Homo sapiens: one gene and its partners. The protein of the gene in region 2 purifies or fractionates together with the protein of the main gene of each other region. This does not show direct contact. Each region holds a gene or a part of one and is shown on either strand. Other genes may lie near its edges. The genes, in order: IARS1, TAL1, ETS1, SPTBN1, SATB1, RBM25 and SSBP1.

Region 1 (4,192 bases), on a different chromosome or scaffold from region 2:
AATCTAAACCAAGTAACTGGTTTATTTTACCCTGAGACAAGCTGTCAACATTATCAGGAAAGGCACAGGCAAATACTTTCTCCTCTTATGCTCTCATCTCTTGGTAAAGAAATGTTCTAGGAAACAGAAAAATACCTGAGCATCTGAGTGTGCTTCAAATTGCGCAGTCCCACCTGTGGCCTGATCAAAGGTGTACATGAGGCGGATGTCTTCATCGTGCAATTCATGGCCTTCCACAACAATGGTCCCTATGGAGAAGCAGCTACACTGTTAATCAGCTTCCCCTCCTCTTCAAGCTGCCCCACTACCCGTGTATTATGCCCCTTCTTGATTAAAATTTCACAATAACAAAGCCACAGAGGCTTCAAGAGATCATTTCCCTCTGACTCATGTCATGGTTGTAGCCAAGACATGACAAACTTTCTTTAGATTACACTATGCTACCTTGAAGACAGTTAAGTCATCACCAGTATCTACTGTTTTATATAAACTCTCAGGTCCAAAGACATGACAAAGCTAAGGGAAGGCACCAAGAGGCAACAAATGCTCACCATAAACACAGAGCAGCAGGATGTCATGAAGAAAATACAGTCTTTAAAGAGAAAGTGAACTTAGGTCCACTATTTGCTGGTTGTATGACATGGTGTTCTGCTACCTGCTGAGCAAGGTGTGGTGAGGCTAAAATGAGACGGGCAGTGTGTAGTACTGAGCATCATGCCTGTTCAGGGGAGGCAGAAATGTGAACAGCTGCTGATGTTAACACCCCCGCTGATAGGGAGGCCCACTGTTGTCACTGATGATGACCTTCTTGGGCTCTGAGCACCCGGGTGTCATTTTTATGTTTACTTTGTCTCTGTGTTCTGAAGATGATCTTGTTTTCCATCAGTGCAGAACAGTACGCTCAGAAACTAGGCTTTCAATTTCAAATAAGGTTTAGCCCAGGAATTTTTTTTTTTTTTTTGAGACAGAGTCTTGCTTTGTCACCCAGGCTGCAGTGCAGTGGCAGGATCTCGGCTCACTGCAAGCTCTGCCTCCTGGGTTCACGCCATTCCCCGGCCTCAGTCTCCTGAGTAGCTGGAACTACAGGCGCCTGCCACCACACCTGGCTAATTTTGTGTGTGTGTGTGTGTTTTTAGCAGAGACGGGGTTTCACCGTGTTAGCCAGGACAGTCTCAATCTCCTGATTTCGTGATCTGCCCGCCTCGGCCTCCCAAAGTGCTGGGATTACAGGCATGAGTCACCACCCCCAGCCATCTCAGGAATTTTTGATGCTTTGGCTATCTGGCGAACAATTTAGATTTGTGGCTTGAAGGCTCGTAACACTTTGTTATTTTAATATTTTGAGTTGATTAGTAATTAGTAATAACTTGAGGTTTAGCTGCTGATGTCTTATGTTTTATTAATTCTATCTAAATATTTGGAGAATCTTAGGGACAGTTCCCCCATCTGATTTATGAATCCTCAAATCTCTCTTCTCAAGACATCTCCTAGCTTATGATTTTCAACTTCAGAGGAAGCCGTAACAATAAACAGCTTGTGCCCCAGGATAGTTACAGGATGTCAGACAGCCACACTCAGACCATGTATGATTCTAATCATGGCAGAGCTGCAAATTTCTGGGCACCCTGAAATGCTCTGTATAGGGGTAGCAAGATGGGGCTGATTTCCCTTTCCTAATCCCATCATTTGGTTAGGTACCCCCACATGTTTTTATGTTACCCTACACCTTCCCTTTATAACACTTATCAAAACCATAATTATTTTCCCAAATCTTCAATGTCAGCAAGCACCATGAAAGTAAGGACAAAATCACCCTAGGCTCCAGGGATCCTCCCACCTCAGCCTCCAGAGTAACTGGGATGGCAGGCACATACCACCACATCTGGCTAAGTGTGGTAGTATGTGCCTGTAGTGATCTCAAGTGATCTATCCAACTGGGCCTCCCAAAATGCTGGGATTACAGATGTGAGCCGCTGGGATTACAGATGTGAGCCTCTGTGCCCAGCTATTTTCTTTCTAAACTGTAAGAATTATTTATAATAAACATTTTTATCAACAGGAAAAAAAGTTTTACTTAAGAAAAGGATGGACCGGTGCAGTGGCACACACCTGTAATCCCAGCAATTTGGGGGACCGAAGGCGGGTGGATCACCTGAGGTCAGGAGTTAGAGACCAGCCTGGCCAACATGGTGAAACCCTGTTTCTACCAAAAATACAAAAATTAGCCAGGCATGGTACTACGTGCCTGTAATCCCAGCTACTTGGGAGGCTGAGGCAGGAGAATCACTTGAACCTGGGAGGCAGAGGTTGCAGTGAGCCAAGATCGCGCCACTGTGCTCCAGGATGGATGACAGAGCGAGATTCTGTCAAGAAAAGAGAAGAGAGAAGAGAGAAAAGAGAAGAGAGTAAGGAAAGGAAAGGAAAGGACAGGACACGACGGGACACGACAGGACAGGAAAGGAAAGGATGTGATATTAAAAGTCAAACAGTAGCCTAAAAAGTATCCCTCAGACTCAGGACATAAATGGTGCCCTTGTCTGTGTAGACACCTACCAGTCTTCTGGAACTGCTCCAGCTCCTCACTGCTCAACTGCTTGATGGACGTCATCACTGCCTTAAAGGCTCCCTTCAGACGCTTCCCCAGGACCATGTGATCTGGTTCTGCCCTTAGCCGAATGCCATACTTGTTTTTATCTGTAGACAGTGTAACTTTTCGAACATTGAGTTCCTACAGTTAATGCACAAGAGGAAACAAAAATGAGAAATGAAAACATATGTTCACACAAAAATGTAGGTCCACAGCAGCATTATTCCTAACTGCCAGAAAGCAAGAACACTTCAAGTGTCCATCAACTGTGAATGGATAAACAAAATGCAGCATACACATGCAATAGAGTATTTGGCAATATGAAGGACTGAAGCACTCATATGTGCTACAACATAAATTAATGTGAAACATTATGCTAGGTGAAACACGCCAGACATAAAGATTACAAATTGTATGATTCCACTTATATGAAATGTCCAGAGAAGGCAAATCCAGAGATAGCAAATAGGTTCGTGGATGCCAGGAAATGGTCAGATATTGAGGGGAAAATGGTTTGTGAATGTTAATGAATACTGGCTTTCTTTCTGGGACGAGGAAAATGTTCTAAAACTATGGTGATAGTTGTACCATTCTATAAATATGCTTAAAAACCAGTGATTTGTATGGTAAGAAGAAAATGCTTGTTATGAAGATCTATCAAGACAGTTGAGCATAACAGAAAAAGGACTCCAGACCCAGAAATATAAACCTCATCCCTCAGAGGTAACCTTTGTGCAAGCAATTGCAGAGTACCACAAGGTTAACTATTAACTAAGCAGAAGATCAGTTAAACAGAACACTTCATGCTTCAGTCATGCTACTGAGGATTACTGATGCGGCAGGGATGGTGATGGCACAGTAGCGGATGGGAAAATGAGAACAGCTTGAAGCAAATAATACGGAATGTTTAGTTTTGCCATTATATTTAGCTACATTAATTAATCTCATTTTAAGTGAAGTAGTTAATTTCAAAATTTTTCAGCTGGGTGTGGTGGCGCAAACTTGTAATCTTAGCACTTCGGGAGATCGAGGTGGGAGGATCACTTGAGCTCAGGAGTTAGAGACCAGCCCGGGCAACATGGCAAAACCCCATCTCTACAAAAGCCTGTACTACTATGCCTAATCTCCGCCACTTGGGAGGCTGAGGTGGGAGGATTGCCCGAGCCCAGGAGATGGAGGCTGTAGTGAGCCAAGATCACATCACTGCACTCCAGCCTGGGTGACAGAGCGAGACCCTGTCACAAAAAAAAAAAAAAAAAAAAAAAAAATTTCTATTTTATGCATAGCCACAGGTACTAATGTCAGAATTTAAAATCTAACTTTTGGTTTCTAATATTTCTCTGCAACTTTCAAGCAACTGAAAACCAAATATAGAAATTAACATTTTCTATAATAATGATTTTAAATATCACCTGTGAAAAGAATAAACAATGAAATTTTAAAAAATATTTGTTTTCTATCATCACAAAGAAGATGAGGTAAAACATATGCGTTTTTAAAACATCATGGAATAAAGATGTTTTAAAATATCATGGAATAAAAATGTTTAGGAAGACAACTGACACTATAAACTTTGACCCCAAAACTCCACTTCTGGAATCTATC
Region 2 (4,192 bases):
ACCCCCAGCTAGAGGGACGGGACGCGGCCGAGGCCAGCATGGCCCCCCCGCACCTGGTCCTGCTGAACGGCGTCGCCAAGGAGACGAGCCGCGCGGCCGCAGCGGAGCCCCCAGTCATCGAACTGGGCGCGCGCGGAGGCCCGGGGGGCGGCCCTGCCGGTGGGGGCGGCGCCGCGAGAGACTTAAAGGGCCGCGACGCGGCGACGGCCGAAGCGCGCCATCGGGTGCCCACCACCGAGCTGTGCAGACCTCCCGGGCCCGCCCCGGCCCCCGCGCCCGCCTCGGTTACAGCGGAGCTGCCCGGCGACGGCCGCATGGTGCAGCTGAGTCCTCCCGCGCTGGCTGCCCCCGCCGCCCCCGGCCGCGCGCTGCTCTACAGCCTCAGCCAGCCGCTGGCCTCTCTCGGCAGGTCAGGGGCCAGGGGCCAGGGGCCAGGGGCTGGGCGGGTGGGCAGGGCGACCACCCCCACCGGGGTTTCCTTCTACACATCGGCGGCGGCCTGCCCTGGGGGCCGAGCGGGTGGAGCGCAGGGAGAGGAGGTCGTTTTAAACCCAGTGGCTCTAGAGCCTCAAGCTGGAGCCCCCGAGTGAGTGCCAGTGAGGGAGGGGCCTTCTGTGAGAGAGAGTGTGCGTGTGGCTGCGGGGTGCATGGCTGTGTGGAAGCCGAGAGGAGGACGTGGACACCTTCGCGGGTGCAGGCATGTGGCTGGTGTGCTTGGTGGTGGTGTCGTGGGGGACGGAGAGGAAGGAGTCCCCTGAGCGTGGGTACCAGGAAAGAGTGTGCCTGCATGTGCTTTGCTGTGAGCAGAGGTAGATGTTTGTGGTGTGAAATTCATTCGGAAACTCAGCGCTAGCTGGACAGGCAAGAGATAAGGATCTGAGGGTGGTGGCAGAGGCACCCTCCCCCGAATCTCTGCTGGAGGGCCCGCCTGAGGACTGACCTGTCCCTCCACTCCCAGCCCCTCTGCTCCTAGCCGTGGTCTCTGGCCCCAGCCTGTACTCCGGTTGGTGTCAGGGCATCCGTTTCCCTGCTGGCGCTACTGTGATGATGAGGGAGAGAAGCCATAGGGTTGGAATAGAAACCGGCAGATGGGGCAGGGATAGAGTGTGGGGCAGTCAATGAACCTGGCGGGCACCCGAGACAGAGCTATGGGGAGCTTAGGGTGGGTGAGGGCAGAGAGCTAGGCGGAGCATTTCAGCTGAGGGGAGTCAGGGTTTCCTGTCTGTTGTGTATCTACAGCCCCTTATGGGTGGGGTGAGGTGGGGAGAGGGGACAGTGTGCCCCTTTGTGGTGACCAAGATGCACACCATCAGGTGTGAAGGTTACATTTGCCTGAGTGGGCATGTGTTTGGGAGTGGAGGTGTGTGTGGATTATGTGCTTGTTTCTGGGGCGGGAGAATGGAGAGTGTTTCTATCTGTGAAGTGTGTGTGTGTGTGTGTGTGTGTGTTCATTTTTGTGTTTATTCCATGTGTTATTCACCTCTGCTTCTGCATATGTGCCTGTGTTTGTGTGGAGGGATGTGTGGTTAGGTGTCTTTTCCTCCCTTTGCTTGTTTTATGACAGACAGAGTGAGGGCATTCCGTGTGTATGTGTGTGTGTGTGTCTGTGTGTGCCTATTCCCAGCTCAAGTGTGAAGGGACCAGGGTTGCCCAGAGGTGGGGGGCTCAAGACATGTGGGGAGGATCCCTAAGGAAGCTCTTTCTCCCCTCCCCTCAACATGGGATCTTGTGATCTGCCCGTTCCCTCCCACAGCGGGTTCTTTGGGGAGCCGGATGCCTTCCCTATGTTCACCACCAACAATCGAGTGAAGAGGAGACCTTCCCCCTATGAGATGGAGATTACTGATGGTGAGTCTGCCCCACCCCACCGTTGTACCTGCCCCTCACGCTGGTTAGAGCCCTCTGGAGGAGGGAACATCTGGGACTACTCCGTAGGTATCTCACAAAGATGGGCGGGCCACTTTCCAAACCCAAACTGCCGAAGCCCTTCACCCTGCAGCTGAGCTAGGGCTAAGTAAAGTCCTGGATGGGGCTAGCAGGACCACACTCACAGTCCTGCAAAGAGGAGGCATGGGAGAGAGACACATAATGGCGCTTAGCCCAAACCTCTGGAGTTAGTTCCCAAACCTTTGGAGTTAGTTCCAGTCCCCAGTCCGGGCTCCATTCCTACACTTTGGCAAGGATCCCAAGTGGGCGCAGAATCACACAGTGTCCCCCGATCCCCCATTCTAGGCACTGACCCTCAGGGATTCCCTGCACTTCCTCCCAAGTCTTCCTTAGAGTCTGGAGTCTGCTTCCTCCCTGCAATGGAGTCATCAAGGGTTTTCTCCGAGGTCCCTACACAGTAGGCTCCCCTTGTCTCCCGTTAACACATTCTGGGCTTAGACCTGGAGTTCCCTTCCTGACATCATGGATTCTACCTTGCCCCCTGGATTCCCCGAGAAGGGCCTTGGCACTGCTCCTTTGAGGTACTTGAATATTCCCTGAACTTGCAGGGGTGGTTTGGACAAATGGGAGATTTGGAAGACCCTCGCCATCTTTCCAAGGTTGACCTTGTATAGTAGATTGGTCCCAGCACCAGGGGTAGGAGAGCAGGCACTTCAGAGCTGAGGGACTTTGAGCCAGACCCAGATGCCCCCAGAACTTCAGCTTGGCTGTGGCCTGGGGCTCCTGTAGGAAGGCTGCCCAAGGCCTCAGAGCAAGGCTGGGATTTATGCTCCAAACTGGTGGGAGGAATATGAGTATGGAGCTGGAGCCTCTGGAGTGGAGCCCTCTGTGGTGTTCTGGAGAGGAGCGGGGCTGGGATCTGCACAACAGAAAAGACTTCAAAAGACCCAAGCAGCCTGGGGCACAGGTGTGCAGGGCTGAGAGGCAGGGGTGCCTTCTGCTAGATTAGAGAGGAGTTCTCTAGTCTAAGAGAGGTGGGTGTACCAAACAGGAAGAAGACAGGACCAGCCCTGAAGTTCCCCAGGGATGAGGCATTTTCTACAATAGGCAGAAGAGGCAGAGCATAGGGGCGAGGGTTTGTGGGGTGTGCAGGAGTGTAGGGCAGTCATTATCCATAAGTGTTGGCAATATTTACCGAGCACCTACTCAGTGCTGGCCAGAGAGAGGCAGAGGACACCAGGAGGGGTAGACAGACTCAGGAAAGAGGAAGGTGAGGAGAGGGGGTGGTTCTCTGGAATAAAACCAGAGAGGAATAGGCAGACATGTAGGCGAAGGGTAGGGTATGAGTGTGCAGGATGTGTCTAGGGGACACTGAAATTAGAGATTGAACCCAAAAAGAGTCCATAGAAGTAGAACTAATGCAAGATCTAGAGTTAGGACTTGATGTGGATTCCTGTTGCTGAATTGCTACTACCATGTATTGGACACCTACTATGTGCCATGGACTATGTGTGCTTGATTTCTGTTTATTCCTTACCACAAGCTCATGAGGGCAATATTATTGTTTACATCTCACAGATAAGGAAATTGAGGCTGAGAGAGGTTACCCAGCTTGATCAAGGTCACACAGCTAAGTCCTGGGTCACACAGCTAAGTCCTGGACCACCCTCATAACACTGGTCTTAAGCTTTGGAATAAGTCCTGACCACTTCCCCACCATCTCCCCTTCTGGATGTAGTCTAGCTCCAGCTGTGACAGCAGTCATAAGTACCCCCTCCCCAACTAGGAGCTCCCTCAAGATCACCAGCATTAGCCATGGTGGAGGGACTGTCCTCCCTATGTCACTGCTGAGGGATGCTCTCTGTCTGGCCTGGAGGCCTGAAAGCAGCAAGTAATTTCCTCAGAGGCCGCCCAGGGTAGAACTGCCCTGCAGTTGTGCTGTGTTTTTCCCAGGCTGGGTCTGGCCTTTGGCAAACAGTCAGCTGGGCTAGGGCCTGCTATGGTTTGGAAAGGCAGCTTCAGAGGTACCATGGGCAGGGGATGGTGATCCTTCCCATTAAAAGTGTGTGTGTGTGAACACCCACACATGCATGTGCATGCCTGTGTGCGTGTAGGAGAGAGAAAGAGATGATCAGGCAGTAAGTGTGGCATGGATGAGCTGATTCACAGACTGACCACTGAGGTGAGGTCTGCTTCCATCCCAGCCTCAGTCTCCTTAGCTATAAAATGGGCAGTGGGACTTAGGTGAGGTCTTAGCTCTTCTCCTCTACCTCGGTTTTCACACTCTGAGGTCTGGTTCCAGGGG
Region 3 (4,192 bases), on a different chromosome or scaffold from region 2:
TACTCCCCATGGAAACTTTGTGGTTACAACGCATAGAAAAGAAAAAGGATTAGAAGAACTGAAGATGGTTTTTCTGTCTCACTACTAAATCTACAAGAACCTCATTTGCTTGACTAAGTAATCCAACATTACAGTAGTAGTGAATATTCCTTCTTATTTTAAGTAGCCAGCACTGACAAATGAAGGCTGTGTTCCAAATTATGGGCTACTGTCTTCTGTGTCTTAAGCTAAGTGCATTTATTCTTTCACTAAGGTTACAGAGCAGCAACTCACAGTACAATTAACATCTCAGTCTTTGTTTCTTCACAACTTCACTATAATTATTCCGCCAACCCTTGCTTAAATGGAAATGAGTCATATCCATCTCCTATTTCTCTAAAAATAAACCCATCTCCTAATTAAGCATAACACTTTCAAGTCCTGTATGAATTGACATAGCTCAACGAATCCTTCTTAGAATATTAAAATGAACTCATGTCATTATAATTTTAAAGAGTATATTGTTTTACCCTTCCTTGAGGAGTAACTCGCTACTATCTCCTGAAAAAGAGAAAGACTAGAAGATGTTTTACTCTGGTATACCATAGCAGTTAAGAAATAAGGAATGCTTCATAGATTATTTTATGCATTTCCTTCTCAGTGGAAACAAATCCCTCACCATACAGTACTGAAATGGCATTGTCAACAATGGACAGAAAGGTCTTGCTTCTCCTAGGCATCAAGGAAATACATTAAAACCTGCCGACTCTTAGGTCTAGGAATCTAACTAAGAAAATGCCAATTCTAGTCTCTGAAACCTTTGAAATACTAACAATCTACACTTTCTAGTCAATCATACTTCTGTCAGAACATCTTCCTGAAGATCAAAGGTAATATTCAATACACTGCCTTACCATAAAAGTGGCCATAGCCTGTGTACAAATGCTATGCCTCAAATCCTGTATTTTACCATGAAATTCAACAAATGATCACACTTGGCCTTAGGATGTACTCCTGAGCCAGAAGCATGGTAAGTACTCATAAATAACTGAATAAATAAATAAGGATTGTGTTTTACTTCGAACCTCAAAACAAAAAAAGAATAAGCTGGAGGAATAATGTAGAGTACTCTTTGCTTTCCAAGAATGGTCGTAATAGAGGCCATGGAATAAGAGATTGTTTTCCAAGTCAAATGCAAAGAAGGGCCACGAGATTAAAAACGTCAACTCTAATCCAATGAATGCTGCCAATGAAACCTCTGAAGAGACTAGCATTTTAAAGAATTACATTACAGACTCTTAGCCTGTGAAGCATGTCAGACATAATCTAGAGTTTAGACTTGGCTCTGGCTCTAAAGGAATTCTCAACAAAACTGAGAGGCACCATAAATAGAAAGAGATATTACAAGAACAATGAGAGGGGACTGGATAGTTGCAATAATGCCCCTTTAAAATTGAACTAAAAGATACCAGCTGCCTTAGATCTCTCAAATCCAGCAAGCAACTTCTTGGACTATGTCTGATTGTGATTTTCATGGTGGAGTTTCATTTGTTTTATTACCCGAAATGTAAGGTTCCAATTTCTCAGTATAATGCTAAACAGCTTGCTAGCATTCTTATATAAAGAGGGATTGTGCAATTCCAGTGAATTTTGGAGTTGGAAAAAATTCATCAATCTTCTCATTTATTTCAATGAACTGAGTCCTAAGAGGTTACGTGTTTAGCAGTGATCAAGAACCCTGGAGTTACATACTATGGGTGAACGTAGAACTGCTTGCTGCGTGTATGGCCATGAGCAAATTTCTTAACCTCACAATCAGTTTCCTCAACTATAAAATGCAGGTAATAATATCAACACTTTCAGGATTATAGAGGAGGATCATACAAAACACAAATACTTAGCAGCATGCTGTATAAATAGTAAAAATGGTCAATAAATAATAATTGTTATTATTGCTATTTTATCAGTAGTGCCTGGCAATTAGTAAGCATTAGTAAATGCTTACTAATGTCACTAATTAGTAACACTACTGTTTTATATTAATTACTTTTTTCTACTGCCCAACATGGCAGAGGTTATTTAAGTGTTAGAGCTAGAACATGGATAGCTAAATCTCTCATCTCTTTTTCTAAAGACTTGTATTCAAGTCATGAAAACAGGATTCCCTTTCATAATCATAGGTTGAGTAGCATTAGTCAAGAATTTTGCAGGAGAAAAGAGCCACAATTTCTGTTTAATGGTAGTCTGTTTGTACCATTGTTATGCATAAAACCAAGAAGTAAGCATTTTTCTTACAGTGGAGAACTAACTCATTGAAAGATTGCATAGCACAAATGGTGAAATATTGCAGCTTCCTGAGTTAAACCAACATCTTTTTGATATAATGTCGATCTTTTGTGGACTTACGCTTTAGCAACTAGATACAAATATAAGGAAGTAGTAAAGCACTGCGGAAAATAGTGCAAGATTTCTTGTTTGTTCATTTTTTTCATTTTTGCTTTTTCATTTGTTTTTGCTTTTTCTTTAGAGCAGTGCCTCCCAAACTGTAATGTGCATATGAATCACCCGGGGATCCTGTTACAATGCAGTCTGCTGCAGTAGGTCTGAGGTCTGGCCAGACATTCCACATTTCTAACAAGCTCCCACGTGGTGCTGATGCCGCAGGTCAGAGGACTTCACTGTGAGTAGCAAGGCAGCGCTGGACTAACTTGGTTGAACTCATGAGTGATTATAACAAGGTAGGTGTTTAGGAGGCAGAGCCCAAGGAGGAACAGGCAAGACTTCTGTGCCAAGGCTGAGCAGATGCTGGTAACCTCAGGTGCAATACAAACCCGGCTGGGGAGAATTGAGTAGCTCAGGACCTGTCAGTGTCTCAGGAGCCATATGCCAGATGCACATCTGCCAAGACTTCTTGCTTTTCCTAAGAAGACATGGTTCTAGTTATTTGGTCCCTTTTATCAAGAAACTGGCAATGGTGCTTTCTCCCATCAACAGAAGTCATTTGGATTAAGGATTACAAGAGGTGCCAAGAGATAATTTAAAAGAGTTATTTGCATTATATGTTTTTTTTTACAATTGTAAAAGACTCACATGTTTTGGAAACTTTTTGTACATTGTTTTGCAAACTTTTATGCATCTGGAATTATTTCAAAGTGAAAAGTTTTTTTTAAGTCTCTAAAAAGACTAAATCTCTTTTAAATCTCTAAAAAGACCAAAATTCTGGAGTTTTCTACCTTTCCACATCTCTTGAAAATTTATATATTTTTTCCTCCCCATTGAGAATATTTTCCTGACATTTGCACTAAATGTTTGTTGCTTACTCTCATGCTAGTAAGTACTACCCAGCCTGTTCCCTCTAAGTTCTGAAGGCAGCTCCAACACTTGATTACTGGAATATGAAATCTATCCTCTTTTGAAAAAAAGGCAGATCAGAAACATCCTTCCCTCACTGCTCTAGATACCATTTTTTTCTACCTGAACTCCCAAAGCATGTATAGGTTATACTACACTACTTAATAATTATATTGTCTTTCATTTTTATCCTCTTTTCTAGTAAAGATTATTGTGTTAATTTTAAAAATGGAGTTTACATATTGTTTCTTCTGTGTTTGGTATGGTCTCCAGCACAAGGCTGGGCATGGAGTAGAAATAAAACTGATATTTGTCAGGGAAGGGACTGACTTACTTACCCAGGAAACTAGGCCTGGGTAGTCTTTCTTCAAAGTCAGTATCTTCATAACAATGAATAAGTAATCCACAGATACCACTTCAGAAAACAGGCTTAATCCAGTGTTCTCCTAGATAAGCAAATCAGTCTAAGCAGAAAAATCTATCCTAAATTTGTGTAAATGTCTTAGAGTTACTTAGATTCCTATGACATGCAGTTCCAATCACAAGCTCTGGGTTCACATTCCATTGGCTCTAATCAGGGTCCACCATGAGTTAACACGGTCATATGACTGAGCCTCAGAGTCCCCACCTGGTAAATGGGGATGACGAGAGTGGAGTGCCCACCTCAAAACTTCATTGTAGATTAAATGAAGCAGTCCCTGCAAAGCACCTAGCAAGGATGTTGGAACATACCAAGTGCTCAGTAAACGTTAGGGCTGAGTATTCCTCCTTAGGTGAAATGAAGAAGAATGGATATGATAACTAGAAAATCATCTACATTAAAAGGTGGAGTTCAATAAGCTATACTTTCAGTACAGCAGGG
Region 4 (4,192 bases), on a different chromosome or scaffold from region 2:
CCATTAAAATATGAGACTTTTTGTGCTGGTTGTGTAAAATCGTGTTGCGTACAGATTTTTATGAATGTTGTTCCCATGGATCATCCAAACGTTTTGGATTTACTTTGTTGTAAGAAATATCCTGTGTTGATGTCACAGGAGGTTTAGCTGTTCTGACTTACACAGCAGGTGCAGAATTCTGTTGGGTTAAGCTCTTTGTAACTCTGTCATTACTGGAGTGACCAAAACCTTCATCTGAGAGGAGAAGTATTGGGCAGTGAAGGAACTGCTGTCACTAGGTCGTCTCCCACAGTTGAGGTTTTCTGTGAAGAACTTCTCTTGGGCAAGACTAGTAACAACTATCTGTGATGTTGCAGAGCAAATGAGAAGACCTCCCTCTACTTGTGACACATCCTGAGCAGAGGCTTGGCATTGGCAGAGTTTCCTGGAAGGGTTTGTAGAGTGGTTGCTTTGTCTTGATGTTTGAATGTATGACTTTACATGTGGAAGTACTATTTTGACGTGGAAGGATTTTACTACTGCTAACATAGACATGATTAGTGGAAATCATTCAGTGTGGATTTTGTCGAAATAATTTTAAGCTTTTCTTTTTAATAGCATATTCTTATAGAACATTTTAAAGCCTAATTTTTTTTACGTGCAATGACATGATGCTCCTTTAATTATGTTGCATCGTAACTAGTATCTTCATTATAATTGGGCTTTATTTAATGGCAGCCGTAGTTTCTTTCACTACATTATTGGAAATGCAAACCATTCTTCCAGAAGGAAGGGGCTAACTACCCCTGTTAGAAGAGTGAACTTTGTAGGTCTGTGGAAGTGAGTAAAGCATCTCATGGGTTTTTCTTGTAAATTTTCAGTCTTTGCTTTTTCTCAGGGCATCTTTTCTTTGCAAAAGACCTAGTTTAGTACTCTGATTTTTCCGGTAGCACTTGTAATTATATTTAAATTTTTATTGTGTGGGAATAACATCATCTATTTTTTTCTACTCAGTGGTTAAAGGAAATTACACCAATTAGATATACCTGTGTTTCTATTTTTAAACATCTCTGGAGAAGGCATTTTCATAATGTCCTTTGCTATCATAGTGAGGTTCACGGACCTTCAACATTAGAATCGCCTGGAAGCTTGTTGCAAATGCAGATTCTTAGGCCCCACTCTGAACTCAGCCAATCGGAATCAACATTTTAACAAGACCTTTAAGTGAGTTGTATGCACATTAAATGAAGAAACTCTATTCTGTTCCTTCAGCAAAGGGACCTCAATATCAAAAGTTTCCTTCTTGAATTTTCCTTTCTTTTGCTGAAGTATCAGCACATTTTTTTCCTTGATGGTGGTGACAAAAGTGAGGCTCTCACTGTAAATTATTTGTTTAATACAAAATTATTTTATAAAGCTGTTCTTTAATTCTTGGTGGAAGAGTCCTATATACCATGGTTTATTTAGATTAATCAGTGTTTTAGGTTGTTTTGTAAAACACCTCTAAAGTTGAAAAACAGTCTTTTTCCCCTCTGGAAGAAAAAGGCATTGGTTTTGAGACATCAGAGCTGGAGCCTCGGAAGCTAACCCCTGAGCAAAGGGTCCTCTCTGCTCCCTCTGCTCTGGCATCTTGATGTCTGTCATCTGATATAGTCAATGTCCTGCCCTCTCGTCCAGTCTTTTCTTAGAGTTCTTTTTTGAATCAACTAATTGGTAGGTACAAAATAATGTTCCTAAAATATATGTTAAAGAATCGTAAACCAGCTGGGTGCAGTGGCTCACGCCTGTAATCCCAGCACTTTGGGATGCCGAGTGGGGGCGGATCACTTGAGGTCAGGAGTTCAAGACCAGCCTGGCCAACATGGTGAAACCCCATCTCTACTAAAAATACAAAAATTATCTGGGCATGGTGGCAGGCATCTGTAATTCCCAGCTACTCGGGAGGCTGAGGCAACAGAATCAGTTGAACTGGGGAGGCAGAGGTTGCAGTGAGCCGAGATCGCGCCACTGCATTCCAACCTGGGTGACAAGAGCGAGACTCTGTCTCAAAAAAATAAAAATCATAAACCAAGGGACACTCAGGCAGCCACCGGCTAGTTCAGGAAGAGCCTTATACATTCAGAGCCCACCTCCATCATCCCATCTGAAACAACCCATATCCTTGATTTTGTGCATATCATTCCCTTCTCTATGGTTTATCCTTTTTAAAAAATCTTGATTGTGTATGATTTTGAACTTTATATCAACAAAATTATACTTTATGTATTCTTCTGACTCACATATTTAGATTAAGATTCTATTCCCAAGGTTTATCCATTTCATGGCTGTATTTCATTCAGTTTCACCTGCTGTATAGTATTCTAACGTGATTTATTTATTCATTGTACTCTAGATGGAGATTTGGATTGATTCCAGGTTTTTTTGCTATTGTGAAAGGGTTGCTGTGAGTGGTTTTTGTACACGGCTCTTGGTACATATGTGGAGGCACACACACCCATTTGCTGTCTCTAGGGAATGAAATTTTCTGGCTCACAGGGCATATGCATCATCAGCCTTAGTAGAGAATGTAGAACTGTTTTTTACAAAGCGATTATGTTGATCGTGTTCCCACTAGCCATAAGTGTTACAGTTCCAAAGCCTTGCCAGTGCTTCACATACCAGGCTTGAAAATCTTGTCCAGTGAAACATTATCTCACTGTGATTTTTATTTACAATTTCTCTGATTATTGAGTTTGAATGTCTGTTTACATTATTAACCATTTGGGTTCTTCGTTTTGTGAAGTACCTGTTCAGTCTTTTACCCATTTATCTTATTAATTTGTAGTTCTGTATGTAGATTACTACTAATCCTTTGTGGATTACATGTCTTGCGACAATTACTTCTCAGCTTGTGTTTTTTTTCTTAACTCGAATTTGTGATTTCTTTTGATGATCGGTTATTTGTAATTTAGCAGAGTCATAATCAGTATTTTGTCCTTTAAAGTTTGTGAGGGTAATTTTCTTATTTCAGAAAAGTTTTTCTTTGTTTGGAAAGAGCATTCGTTTTGGAGTCAAACAGGTTGTGGGCCCAAATCCTAATGGTGTTGTATACTAGCCTTATGGCTACCACTAGGTACTGGCCTTGAGCTAGTTAGTTACTCAAGACCACAGTTTCCTCATTGGAAAAATCAAAATAATATTAGTTTCTCTTAGTTATGATACAGCAGTGTACAGTTCCAGGCACATAGTACGTATTTAGTTGATAACAGTTGTTTCCTTTCTGTTGGGACTGCCTAAGCACTATGACCCACTGATCCCTTTTGGTATGCTTTGCAAAAACTACCTAAACCTTTTTATGTCAGGAGAGCTATTAAATGGCTTATTCTAACTTTTGTATTTTAAAAGGCTGCATTACCAATGGCATTTATATATTGATTAATACAGTCTGAAGAGACCACTTACTAGAAACCCTTATCAGTTTAGGTTCTGGTTCTTGAAAGTAATGTAATTACATTTATTTGTACACAGTTCTTTTGACCATTAAGCATTTATAGTATTAATGATCTTCCTTTACTGCTACTCTGAGATTACTTTGTAATATTGTTTTTTATTTAATGAATAATTATTGGATACATTATCTTGCCAGGACTTGAAGTTGTTATGGTTTTGTGGACTGGCTTAAAGTTGAATAAGAATTAGTTCCTGAATGAAAGGACTGTATACTCTAGTATATGGAATATATTTTATGTACTATACACAGAAGGTAAAATACCTTTAACAGGCTGGATGTGTGACTTTGGCAAACCTTTAACCCTCCGGTCTCAGATCTAATTTTATAAAATGGAAGACTTAGATGAAATCATAGTGGGGGTTAAAACATGGCACATGCCATCACTCGCTTCTGTTCCTGGCAGACATCGAAAATCAGTAATGGTACTCTTTTTCCACTGAGCTGAGATAGTCTCAGTCATATTCTCGACATGGTGTTCTAGGCAGTAACTACCACTCGATTAAATCTGGCATTCAGTTTTTAAGCTCCTGTACACTTCTAAATTCTGTGATTATAAGATACTTGAGAAACTCATCACCTTGGCAGTGTTCAGAATACAGTGAGACTGGAAGAAACTAGAAGCAAGGAGACAGGAGAGAGGTGACTGGGGGTCCAGAAGTAAAGGGAGCAAGTTACAGTGGTGGCCAAGGGAACAAGGAGAGGAGAGATGGGAAAATGGTTGTG
Region 5 (4,192 bases), on a different chromosome or scaffold from region 2:
GTGTCTTTTTCAAAGTGCTTTGGATAGCTTATATAAATAGACACTGAGAGAGAACTGGAATAACATAACCACCGAGCACTGCAACTTCCGAGACATCTGTGTGGATGTATTTTGAAAAACCTGGGAAGGGATCTCTTGCAAATTAATGAACAAAGGTTCTTGAAACTATGATTTCTATCACGACAGCCAAAGCGATGGATTTGAAAGATTCGTGTCATAGTTAAGCTGCTATTATGTTTGACCTTTAAGGGGAAAAAAGGGGAAGAGGATTTCTGGTGGCTTGTTTCAGTGACCCTTTTTATTGATCACCTAGTCTGTGTCCAGCCCTCTGATGAGTCCAGGATATATTCAGATGAGACCTAAGGCCCACAGTCCAGTGCAAAATAAACAGCAGGATGAGTGCTCTGCTGCAGGAGGTTTGGGAAGTTAGGAAAGGCCTCATGGAAGCAAGGATGCCCAGGCTGTATCCTGAAGGATGAGCAGCTGTTAGCTAGAGATGGGAGAGGGCATGGGCCGTGCATCCAAGCCAGAGGAGTGGTGTGCCTTCTTGATGCTTTCTACCAGATATAGGCCAGCTTCAGAAAACACCACCAAATTGGAGTATGAGAAGGAAAGAAATATTTCCCCGTGGTGTTTTCCTTTACTATTCCTTGTACCAACTTGTAACTTAATAATTTAATCAGTATACTTCATTCTACATTAAAAAGACTCAAAATACTGTATATCATTTGAAAATTTTATCTGATACTCAAAACATAGTCACCTGATATGAAATGTGATCATATAATGAAAGCCCAGTGATGAGGAGGAGGCAAAGGATTGTCATAGTAATTAATATCTCTTCAGTCTATATGTAATATGTTACAGGCTCTGTGCTAATTGTATCACATCTATTATTTCCTGTCCAAGGGCAGATAATATGTCTCTTCAAGTCATTATTTTCCTAGTGACTTGCCCAGTGCTTGGCACATAGTAGAATTTAAGTATATGCTAAATGAATTTTAAAAATGCCTGAATTGATGGATTCTCAGAACAACTCCATGAGGTGTATGCTATTATCATTCCCATTTAGCATAGGAAATTGTGATGGAATGGTCAACTATTTGACCCAAGGTCATACTACCAGTGTGTGACACATCCTCACTTGAATATATGTTTATTTCTATTCTGTTTTGTCAGATGAACATTTAGTGTTTATATTAATGCATGCCAGGCATTGAGCTAGAAAATAATATGGTGCCCCAGACCTACGTGAACTCACAGCTTAGTGCAATCTTTTTAAACCAGTACCTCCTTTTAAGTGACACAAGAATCCCAAGCCTTTCTAACATGGAACTTGGCCTACTATCTGTACATCCCACCACCTAGGAAAATTTTACCAATCATGACTTTTTTATTTGTGTTATCAAAACATTACGTGTTTTTTTCCTGATATTCTAAATTTAAGATTACACTACTGTATATGATTTTTCAAATGCCATGTGCACCACAAAATTCTGCAGTCTCTTTCCTGCCATTGAAACCGGCTGGCTGGTCTACTCCAATGCTATGCCTAAGCCTTTAGTAGGAATTTTACCACCTGAAACACACACACACGCCCACGCCCACACACATACACCTCATGAAGTGGCTATAGGAGCAATCTAATTGGACAGATTATTGCATATTGTCCAATAAAAATAGACATGACTCCAAGTTACCTGAATTAGGAAATATTTCCCAGTCACCCAAAAGCACAAAAAGATAGGGAATCCAAAAAGTTGCTTTGTCATGCATTATAAGTTACGGATTAGCCTTTTGATTTAAGTCTTGCTTAGGCTATTATTTACATTAATCAGAGTTTCCTAAGCATACACCATGTGACAGAAAAGCACTTAAGCCCAGAACCTACCAATTTAGGGTTAAGTAGGGTAGGGGGAAGCTTTGACAATGATGCACATATGGATATTATTTTCCATGTACGAATAATAATAAACTGTATAGCACTATTACATATAGGTTCTAGTTTTATAAAACTATTTCAGACATTTTTTCACACACACCATGGATGATTCTTCCTTCCGTCGTCCCCTATACATTTTCCACTGTTGATATACCAAATCACATTAAATTGAGATGATCTATTTACATATCTGTGTTCTTAATAGATAGTAAACTTCTTGTAGGCAGAGGCTGTCCGCCATCTTTGGATGACAGGTGCCTCATCTTTGTAGGCAGAGGCTGTCTGCCATCTTTGCATCCTTACTACCAGCCAGGCATATAGTAGGTGTGCAGCAAAGAGCAAATTTCATATATAGAACTGTTGGCAAACTGGAGTAGACTGGATGTTTGTCAAAAACCTCGGCAAAATTTGGATATTCCATACACTTCTAAAAAGTAAGACATAAACCACATCTAGAACTCATGTGTATTATTAACATTTAAGGAACTGCCAGAATGTCTAGATAAAGAGTAATAATTTTTTTAAAAATTGGACCAGAGTGGAAGAACATCAACTGTCATCCATTTGCAGAAGAATCACCATTATCCATCAGCGATCTCAATAGTTTTTATTAGTGTCTGACTTTATTGATCCCTTATTACAAGAGAGTAAGTGAGATTGAAGCTGACAGATCAGGTAATCTTCTGGCTCTGGTTTTGGCAACTTTGCTAAGTGTCTTTTTACACTGTGGACTGTGGGAGGCTCTTAGTGAAATTGCAAGCTATTGGATTAATGGCAGAGCATCATGAACACATTAAGAATGTCTTTTTAGAGATATAAAATGTGAAAATGACTATAGAGAGTGTCAAAAAAAAAGATATCACAGTGCCTCTTAGGAAAGATAGCTGTGTTTTACATAAATAATGCGACTCCAGCTTATCCTTCACTGGAAGTTCTTTAGAGATCCCCCAAATTTACATATTCCAGAAATGTGTGCATGCTACAGAATTAACACTGATAGTGGATGTCAGGAGAATGAATAATAACTGAAAGAGCTTTACATTAGAGGTAACTTAAAGAAGATAATTATATAAAAATACTTTTGTCCCCAAACTGGCTTTTCTGGTTGTTCACTGCCTCCTGAACAATGCTGCCTTCTATAAATTATTTCACCATAGACCAACTGATGTCTGAAATGTGAGTTCTCATGTTTCTGCACATAGGGGTGAGGGATAGATTGGTGCTACAAAATCTTACTCCTAAGACTCGGTAGGAAATTAAGTTAGCTGTTACTAGAGAATATGGGTAACAGGTTAATATGGACCATGAATTTAGTCATTGAAATTACCGTAACCAAAATTTGCTGGGAAGATTGAAAATGATTTAAAAAAAGAAACCCTCCTAGTGATTCATTAAAATCATGTTTTTCTTCATTTTTGTATGTTAAAGGGCTGACAGTTTTCCGGGCATTTATTAAAAGCAGGATAAAGATAAGTCACGATAGGTCATCTTTTTGTGGTATCCTTGAGAAATTTAGAAGCATGAAATGTATAAATTTAAAATTTTTATGATCGGTTTGAAATTCAAAACTTAAGCTTTACTATTGATGAAGCCAGTAATAAGATTGCAGAATGTTTTTCTCTTGATAGAGGATCTCTGTGAATAGTTTGTTTCTTCTCAAATACGGTCAGTTAACCTTTGATCAGTGTTAATGCGCGTCCACTTTAAATCCAAATAATAGAGTGGAAAGTGCAAGTTCTGTTTCTCAAATTTTAATATACATGTGAATCCCCTGGGATCTTGGTAAAATTCAGCTGCTAAGTGCACTGGTCTGGGGTAGGGCCCAAGATTCTGCATTTCTAACAAGCTTCCAAGTGATGCCCATATTGCTGGTCCCTGGTCTATACTTTGAGTAGAAAAGATGTAGAGTCCAGTCAAAAAATCGCGAAGTCTCGTATATTTATGAGTCACAATTATAAAGTCATCTTCATGTATTTGGATTTATTGGGACCAGTGAGTTTGACAGCCTAGTAATAGATGGCATTGATGGAGATTCAATGAATGCTAGAGCAAAGTCTGTGGGTTTGATAGCTTTATACTGGTCTCAGTGGGCTGTTGCTTTCTACTTAAATAAGCATTTGATGATCTACTTAATGAATATTAAGAAGTCGAAGCTTTAGGCTAAAGTGTGAAACCAAAATGTATTGGTACTCAGTTGATTAAAAAAATACAGTTGCCACAATTGAGATCATTTCTGTGTTCCATCTTGTG
Region 6 (4,192 bases), on a different chromosome or scaffold from region 2:
CCCCGCCTCGGCCTCCCATAGTGCTGGGATTACAGGAGTGAGCCACTGCGCCTGGCCAGAAAATTATTGATAAAGACCTACAAATACTTACTTTGATTCCTTGTTAGGGTTGTAAGTGTATGGTTTCTATAAGTGGTATGTATTCCTGCATTATAAGCACTCGTAGAAAGCAAATAGGAAATAAGCCATCATTACAGCCCCTAAACTCCCGATTCTTGCAGTTTGGTATATTTAGCAATCTGATGTTTTTGTTTGTTTGTTTAATCTACATACAATTTTGCTTTTTCTGAGTGGTAGCTATCACAATTAACTTAAAATTGTATTTTGCCTTTACTACGTAACTGAATTTTCAACTGTTTAAAAGAGTCGTTACTATTTGTGTACCTATTGAGCAAAACAGTCTGAAAACTTGTGAATGGTTTGCAGATGTGTCGTATAGTGTGCTAGTCCTGAAATTTAGGGACCAGAATTTTTTAGCTATTAAGAAAAAGAAAATGAAAATGAAGTAGTATCTCAGGAATAGTTAAATAAAAAAATGAAGCTTTTCTGATGTTAAGAACAAAACCAATTCTGTGTTTAATAGGACTACAGAGATGTTTTTGAGAAAACATGTATGTTTATTAACTCTTGTTGTAGAGTGATTTTGATTTTCTTGCTTGATTTTTCTTTCCCCTGAATTTGCTGTTTTGTTTAAGAATGCAAGGCCAGAAACTGTCACTAATGACGATGAAGAAGCCTTGGATGAAGAAACAAAGAGGAGAGATCAGATGATTAAAGGGGCTATTGAAGTTTTAATTCGTGAATACTCCAGTGAGCTAAATGCCCCCTCACAGGAATCTGATTCTCACCCCAGGAAGAAGAAGAAGGAAAAGAAGGAGGACGTATGTGTTCTGACAACAACATATCATTTCTACCGTTTGTTTTTTATGATATCACTCTTATACTTTGATTACATGTCAGTTTTCTTTTTTCTTTTCTTTTTTTTTTTTTTTTTTTTTTGAGATGGAGGCTCACTTTGTCTCCCAGGCTGGAATGCAGTGGTGCAATCTCAGTTCACTGTAACCTCCGCCTCCGGGGTTCGAGCGATTCTACTGCCTCAGCCTCCTGAGTAGCTGGGACTACAGGCATCCGCCACCATGCCCGGCTAATTTTTTGGTTTTTAGTAGAGACGGGGTTTCACCGTGTTAGCCAGGATGGTCTCAATCTCGTGACCTCGTGGTCGACCCGCCTCGGCCTCCCACAGTGCTGGGATTACAGGCGTGAGCCACCGTGCCCGGCCACATTTTAAACTTTTTTACAGAGACAAGGTCTCACTATGTTTTCTAGGCTGGTCTCCAACTCCTGGGTTCAGGTTATCCTCCTGCCTCCGCTTCCTAAAGTGCCAGGATTACAGTCATGAGCCACTGCGCCCGGCCCCTATTTTACTTTGTTTGCCTATGGTTGTTCTGTCTCTGTTCTAAGCAAGAAACCAGATCTGATTCACTGAAGATTTCCACCCACTCTTAATTTTTAGCTGCCTTTCCTTAAGAAACTATGTCACATTCCCCTCCCTGAACAATAATGGTATTGAATAATCAAACTGGAGGATTCTGAAAGAGCAGTACAACTTGAAACATTCCTCCTCAGTGAATTGATTGCTACCTCTTTGTGGCCCTAAGCTAATTGTCCAGGTTGAAAGAAAAGGTTTAGTTTTCTCATACTTATTTCCTTTGGATAAACTTAGATAAATTATAGGAAGTGTTCTTTTAAAAATACTGGAAGAAGCCAGAAGTGGTGGCTGACACATGTAGTCCCAGCAACTTGGGAGGCTGAGGGGAGAATTACTTGAGCCCATGAACTTGAGTCTAGCCTGGGCCACAGAGCGAGACCCTTCTATAAAGTAAGAAAAAAAATCCCACAAATATTGGAAGTGTTTTATTTATGTTTTTGAGACAGTATCTTGCTCTGTCACACAGACTGGAGGATGGTGGCGCAATTACGGCTCACTGCAGCCTTGAATACCCATCCTAAAGTGATCCTCATGTGTTAGCCTCCTGAGAAGCTGAGACTATAGGCATGTGCTACCATACCCAGCTAATTTTTGTATTTTTTGTAGAGACAGGGTTTCACCATGTTGCCCAAGCTGGTGTTGAACTCCTGAGCTCAAATGATCTGCCTGCCTCAGCCTTCCAAAGTGCTGGGACTACAAGTGTGAATCACTCATAGCTGGCTCAACGTGTTTTATATGCATGCATTATGTAATAAAAAAGTACTACGTGGTATATATATTATGATTAGTTATGAATGGATGGTTACATTTTATATTATTTTAAATTTCAGTGCCTTTTTAGGCCATATTCAGTTTTCTTTGTGGCCAGATACATACATTTTTATTATTTGGTATGTGTTTCCTCGTTTGGTCATAGAACTTTTCTTTTTTGTTCCCGCCCCTACCCCCACCCAAGACGGAGTCTCACTCACTTGCCCAGGCTGGAGTGCAGCAGCTGCGATCTCAGCTCACTGCAAGCTCTGCCTCCCGGGTTCAAGCGATTCTCCTGCCTCAGCCTCCTGAGTAGCTGGGACTACACGTGCCTGCTGCCACGCCCAGCTACTTTTTTGTATTTTTAATAGAGATGGGTTTCACTGTGTTAGCCAGGATGGTCTCGATCTGCTGACCTCGTGATCCGCGTGAGCCACCGTGCCCGACCCATAACTTTTCTAAGGAGGTGTATTCTGTTAGGAATGGTAATTGGTAGGGTCAGTAAGGTACAGGGTAATTGAGGCCTGTAGAATTCATTCTTCCTCTTTCTTCATTAGTGGGAAAGGAGAAAAATAACATATTTGTTTGATGTGGATTGGGAGGAGATAATAAATTCTTCCTCTGTGGCAGGAGTTATGGGTAAATATTGTTGGTATGATTAGAAAGCCCTGCTACTATGAGAGCACCTTCTATATTTCCATTTCTTGGGGGTGTTGGAGTATCCAGAGAGGAGGGTAGTGTGTGATCAGTTATTGTAAAAAGAGTGAAATCACTTCTATTCCCAAGTAATTTGAAATCAAGAAAGCATCACAGAAGTGTACTGTATTGTTCACGTCATAAATGTATAGGGCATTGCTTTGCAGATTAGTATGAGCTCTGTTTTTCTTTTTTAAAAAAGATTCTTGGTGGATTTTTTCACAGATTTTCCGCAGATTTCCAGTGGCCCCACTGATCCCTTATCCACTCATCACTAAGGTTAGTTTAAATTGTAGGCTTTGACAATACCTGTGTTTACTGCTGATTGTTGATTTGTCATTCTTGTCTATCTGATTTTTCACTATTTAACTTTAGATTGTTAGATTTGTTATTGTGGATATTCTGTTTACTTATTTACTCTTTGAGACCTATACAGAATATCTAACCTTTAACTGTTTATATTGAAGTAGGGTGTTCTTTATTCATTCCCTCCTGTGCCCGTTTTCTTTTAGGAGGATATAAATGCTATAGAAATGGAAGAAGACAAAAGAGACCTGATATCTCGAGAGATCAGCAAATTCAGAGACACACATAAGGTAGTATTCTTGTCTTTTCACTTGATACCAATCTAGACTTTTTACAGAATCCAAAGCAAAGAGACAAAAAAAATCAACCTTAAATTAGAATATAATTTTAAATGTTTTTTATAGGTTTAATTGATATTTAGATAGAAAAAAGAAACAGAAGACCAATACCATATTAAAGTGGTCCTTGACATGTTGTGCTTAGTTTTTTCAGTTACTGACTATTCTGCAGTCATCTCACTTTAATATGAATAGAAGCTAATTTTATTTTTAGATTTCAACATAAACATCAAGGTCAGACTTAAATTAGATTCAGGGGGCAGCAGGATAACATACACTGTAGTGTATTTCTGGGGGCAGTTATTTAACTTGATCTTAGGAATACCTTTTCTTTAGAGCTGAGATTAAAATTTACATTTTATATTTGTATAGATTTAAGTTGAGTGGGGGAGATTTTAAACAGTAGGTCAGTGGTTACCAGACTTACCAAATTTTAGATGCATGGAAGAACTGTAAATTCCCATAAAGCTAATCTATTCATTGACCCCCACCATTATGATAGAGATCATATGGTGACTAATGCAAGATGAAACTCTCAGCTTGGAAAGTAACAAGGAATAGGATGTAAGTATGAGCTTCTGTTTTTTATTATATTTATGGATGCCCCCTCAGA
Region 7 (3,323 bases), on a different chromosome or scaffold from region 2:
CCCTTCCCACGAGGCCATATTTCAGACTATCACATGGGGAGAAACCTTGGACAATACCTGGCTTTCCTAGGGAGAGGTCCCTGCGGCCTTCTGCAGTGTTTTGTGTCTCTTGGTACTTGAGATTAAGGAGTGGTGATGACTTTTAACAAGCATTCTGCCTTCAAGCATTTGTTTAACAAAGCACATCCTACATAGCCCTAAATCCATTAAACCTTGAGTCGACACAGCACACAGCACTTGTTTCTACGAGCACAGGGTTGGGGGTAGGGTTACAGATTAACAGCATCTCAAGGCAAAAGAATTTTTCTTAGTACAGAACAAAATGGAGTCTCTCATGTCTACTTCTTTCTACATAGACACTGTAACAGTCTGATCTCTCTTTCTTTTCCCCACAGATAACAGGGGCAGAGAAAGAACAGAACTACAGCTCCTGTGGCATCACCTGGAGATGAACGATTTCATCTCTAATTATTCAGGTCCTTATTGCTGGTAAACTATGTTTCATCAATGCTACTAATGAAACTGTCCAAAAACAAAAGATATGAAGAAGGTAGGTTAGTCTTAAAGATGTTTAGGTTAGACACTAACCACTGCTCAGCAACTCCCTTCAATTTGAGCTGAAGCTTAGAATCCCATTGGGATGATTCATCTATCAATGCTTACTGAGTGGCTATTCTATGTAAAGCATGGTTTAAAGTGCAGGCAAACAGAAGATTCAGTCCTTGCCTTCATGTCTACAGAGCAAAACGTTAAGAAAATCAATATTTACAAATATGGGATAAATGTCTCACATACAGTGATGCTCAGTAAATTCACTGATTGGACAAATCAATATTGTAATAAAAGTGTATACAAAAACCAGGAGACCTTCCCAAAGCATATTTATCCCTTTGCCATAACACAAATGAGCCTGAAAGTTTACTATTTTGTATACCTGTACATAGAAACCACCCTTAGAAGAATAAACAACTAGTAAATGCCATAACAGATAGTAGCTACCAAGATTATACCACAAAAAGGAGAGCGAGAACGACAGTCAGAAAAAAGATTATTACTCATTTTACGTAAAAGAGTATTTTAATTCTTGTCCTTGGAAGCCATAAAGATTATACATGACTTGGAAATGAGACTGTACCAAATGATGGCCAAAGAAGAATCATCCTTTCTACTCCTTCTCTTTCGTCTGGTCACTCAGAAATATAATATTATCTGTAAAAAAGCCAAAATGTAAATATTAATTTCAGAACTCTTTCTCCATCTCATTCAATAATTCTCCTCTAATACATATAACTTTAGTGCTGTTCATTAAAAGGATTTTAGCCATCTTTTCAAAATATTAAATCACTTGCTATGCTCACGAGAGGTATATATACAGTTGGCATAAGTGGAGCTACAAGTTAGGCACTGGCTGCTTTTCGAACAATTCAGATCTTGTTAGAAGAGGTGGGATATTTCTTGTCTTCCAGTCTTCTCAGAAACAATTTCCTGCAAAAGAACTGGTCACAAAATTGGATGCTTGCAATGGTCAGGCAGATTCCACGACACTAGGCAGCACATCCTCAGAGAAAAGGACAAAAGTGTATCACATTCTACACTCTGGGGGTCTAGAGGAAAGAGTAAGAGTCCATATGTGGCCCTGTTAGCAATGACAGGATTTACTTACGTTTTTAACTTTAAAAATTCAAATAGAAGAAATTTTATTTTTAAATTACAATACAGAATAACTTTTTGTTTTTCCTTTGGAGATGGAGTCTCTGTCACCCAGGCTGGAGTGAAGTGGTGCAATCTCAGCTTACTGCAACCTCTGCCTCCTGGGTTCAAGCGATTCTCCTGCCTCAGCCTCTCCAGTAGCTGGGATTATAGGTGTGCACCACCATGCCTGGCTAACTTTTGTATTTTTAATAGAGACAGGGTTTCACCATGTTGGCCAGGCTGGTCTTGAACTCCTGACCTCAAGTGATCTGCCCGCCTTGGCCTCCCAAAGTGCTGGGATTACAGGCATGAGCACCGCACCTGGCCCAGAATAATTTTAATATACCAATTCTTGGGAACATTTTATGAATCAACATCACAGAGTTAGCATTTTTATCCAAAAATATCAGACGTTGCTCTTAAAATGCTGTTCCAGAGGGAGTTAGCTAAAAATAAACAAAAGAACAGAGGCAAGTAGTAGTCATCCTTCAGTATCCATTGGGGGACTGGTTCCAGGACCCCTATAGATACCAAAATCCACAATGCTCAAGTCCCTGATATAAAATGGTATAGTAATCACATATAACCTATGTACTTCCTCTTATATACTTTAAATCATCTTTAGATTACTTACAATATCTAATACAAGGTAAATGCTATGTTAACAGCTGTTACACTGTATTGTTTCACTTGTATTTTTGTTGTTGTTGTATTATTTTTATTGGTTTCTTTTTTTCACATATATTCAATCTGTGCTTGGTTGAATCCACAGATGCAGAAACAAGGGACATGGAGGAATGACTGCATTTCCTTTATAATTCCAAAAGATTCTTGTAACTATAAAATTATCCACCAAGGACTGAATATTTGTTCATGACCATAGTCTTCCAAAAACTAGAATGTTTTGGTCCAGAACGGTTACTTCAGAACAAACTACTCGAATTAATATCACTGTGGAAAAAGCCAAGAGTGCCATCCACTGGTGGTGGTTTTTTAGTTACAGATAGGATCCCTAGGAGAAAAAAAAATCACCAATAAAACAGATCAACCAATAAACTCTATTTTCTTCAATTCAAATGTCACTGAAGAGCTCTTCAATTTTACCATTAGACATAAACCTAAAGTAAACTGACTGTGCTAGTGGAACCTAGTGACAAGGAAAAAAAACAAAACAGCATATCATCTGAAATGCTTCCGTTTGGCTTATTAGTAACAACTCAATAATCCGAACAATCTAAAGTTTGCCCACACTTGTGGTTTATATTGGGACCCACAGGAGGGTAGGAAAATACCTACACTGCTTTTCAAGGTTAATACACTTTCAAAGAAACTTAGCAGTAAGAAACCATGTGAGCATTCTATACAAATTATAAATTATTAATAAGGTATGGTGGTTAAGACATGAACTCTGGAGCAAAGGAAAGAAGAAAGATAAAAGGCAAATCTAAGAGACTTAAGGTAGAAATCATGTAATATAATGTATGAATGTTTATGAAGTTATCAAGGAAATTTGAACACTACGATATTTAGTAAAAAAATTAACAGTAATTTATTAATATTAGGTGTGATAATAGCACGGTAGTTACATTTTCAAAAAGACACCTTATCTTTTAGAGATCCCTATGGAAATT

Evidence for each region.
Region 1: the proteins of TAL1 (region 2) and IARS1 purify together in Homo sapiens (affinity purification with mass spectrometry; one large-scale study listed by BioGRID and IntAct). This does not show direct contact.
Region 3: the proteins of TAL1 (region 2) and ETS1 purify together in Homo sapiens (co-immunoprecipitation; one study listed by IntAct). This does not show direct contact.
Region 4: the proteins of TAL1 (region 2) and SPTBN1 purify together in Homo sapiens (affinity purification with mass spectrometry; one large-scale study listed by BioGRID and IntAct). This does not show direct contact.
Region 5: the proteins of TAL1 (region 2) and SATB1 purify together in Homo sapiens (affinity purification with western blotting; one study listed by BioGRID). This does not show direct contact.
Region 6: the proteins of TAL1 (region 2) and RBM25 purify together in Homo sapiens (affinity purification with mass spectrometry; one large-scale study listed by BioGRID and IntAct). This does not show direct contact.
Region 7: the proteins of TAL1 (region 2) and SSBP1 purify together in Homo sapiens (affinity purification with mass spectrometry, with the first as the bait; one study listed by BioGRID). This does not show direct contact.

The regions. Positions count from the first base shown.
Region 1 is NC_000009.12:92,244,824-92,249,015, forward strand, and holds part of IARS1 (isoleucine--tRNA ligase, cytoplasmic), read right to left. Parts: intron 2,729-4,192; coding exon 2,554-2,728; intron 249-2,553; coding exon 136-248; intron 1-135. UniProt on the Homo sapiens protein: Catalyzes the specific attachment of an amino acid to its cognate tRNA in a 2 step reaction: the amino acid (AA) is first activated by ATP to form AA-AMP and then transferred to the acceptor end of the tRNA.
Region 2 is NC_000001.11:47,221,660-47,225,851, reverse strand, and holds part of TAL1 (T-cell acute lymphocytic leukemia protein 1), read left to right. Parts: coding exon 1-409; coding exon of another isoform or gene 410-586; intron 587-1,753; coding exon 1,754-1,848; intron 1,849-4,192. UniProt on the Homo sapiens protein: Implicated in the genesis of hemopoietic malignancies. It may play an important role in hemopoietic differentiation. Serves as a positive regulator of erythroid differentiation.
Region 3 is NC_000011.10:128,580,491-128,584,682, forward strand, and holds part of ETS1 (protein C-ets-1), read right to left. Parts: exon of another isoform or gene 2,507-4,192; intron 1-2,506. UniProt on the Homo sapiens protein: Transcription factor. Directly controls the expression of cytokine and chemokine genes in a wide variety of different cellular contexts. May control the differentiation, survival and proliferation of lymphoid cells.
Region 4 is NC_000002.12:54,458,977-54,463,168, forward strand, and holds part of SPTBN1 (spectrin beta chain, non-erythrocytic 1), read left to right. Parts: intron 1-361; exon of another isoform or gene 362-432; intron 433-4,192. UniProt on the Homo sapiens protein: Fodrin, which seems to be involved in secretion, interacts with calmodulin in a calcium-dependent manner and is thus candidate for the calcium-dependent movement of the cytoskeleton at the membrane.
Region 5 is NC_000003.12:18,397,332-18,401,523, reverse strand, and holds part of SATB1 (DNA-binding protein SATB1), read left to right. Parts: intron 1-4,192. UniProt on the Homo sapiens protein: Crucial silencing factor contributing to the initiation of X inactivation mediated by Xist RNA that occurs during embryogenesis and in lymphoma.
Region 6 is NC_000014.9:73,096,220-73,100,411, forward strand, and holds part of RBM25 (RNA-binding protein 25), read left to right. Parts: intron 1-695; coding exon 696-881; intron 882-3,160; coding exon 3,161-3,214; intron 3,215-3,447; coding exon 3,448-3,531; intron 3,532-4,192. UniProt on the Homo sapiens protein: RNA-binding protein that acts as a regulator of alternative pre-mRNA splicing. Involved in apoptotic cell death through the regulation of the apoptotic factor BCL2L1 isoform expression.
Region 7 is NC_000007.14:141,748,197-141,751,519, reverse strand, and holds the end of SSBP1 (single-stranded DNA-binding protein, mitochondrial precursor), read right to left. Parts: intron 1,210-3,323; coding exon 1,166-1,209; 3' UTR 1,032-1,165; downstream 1-1,031.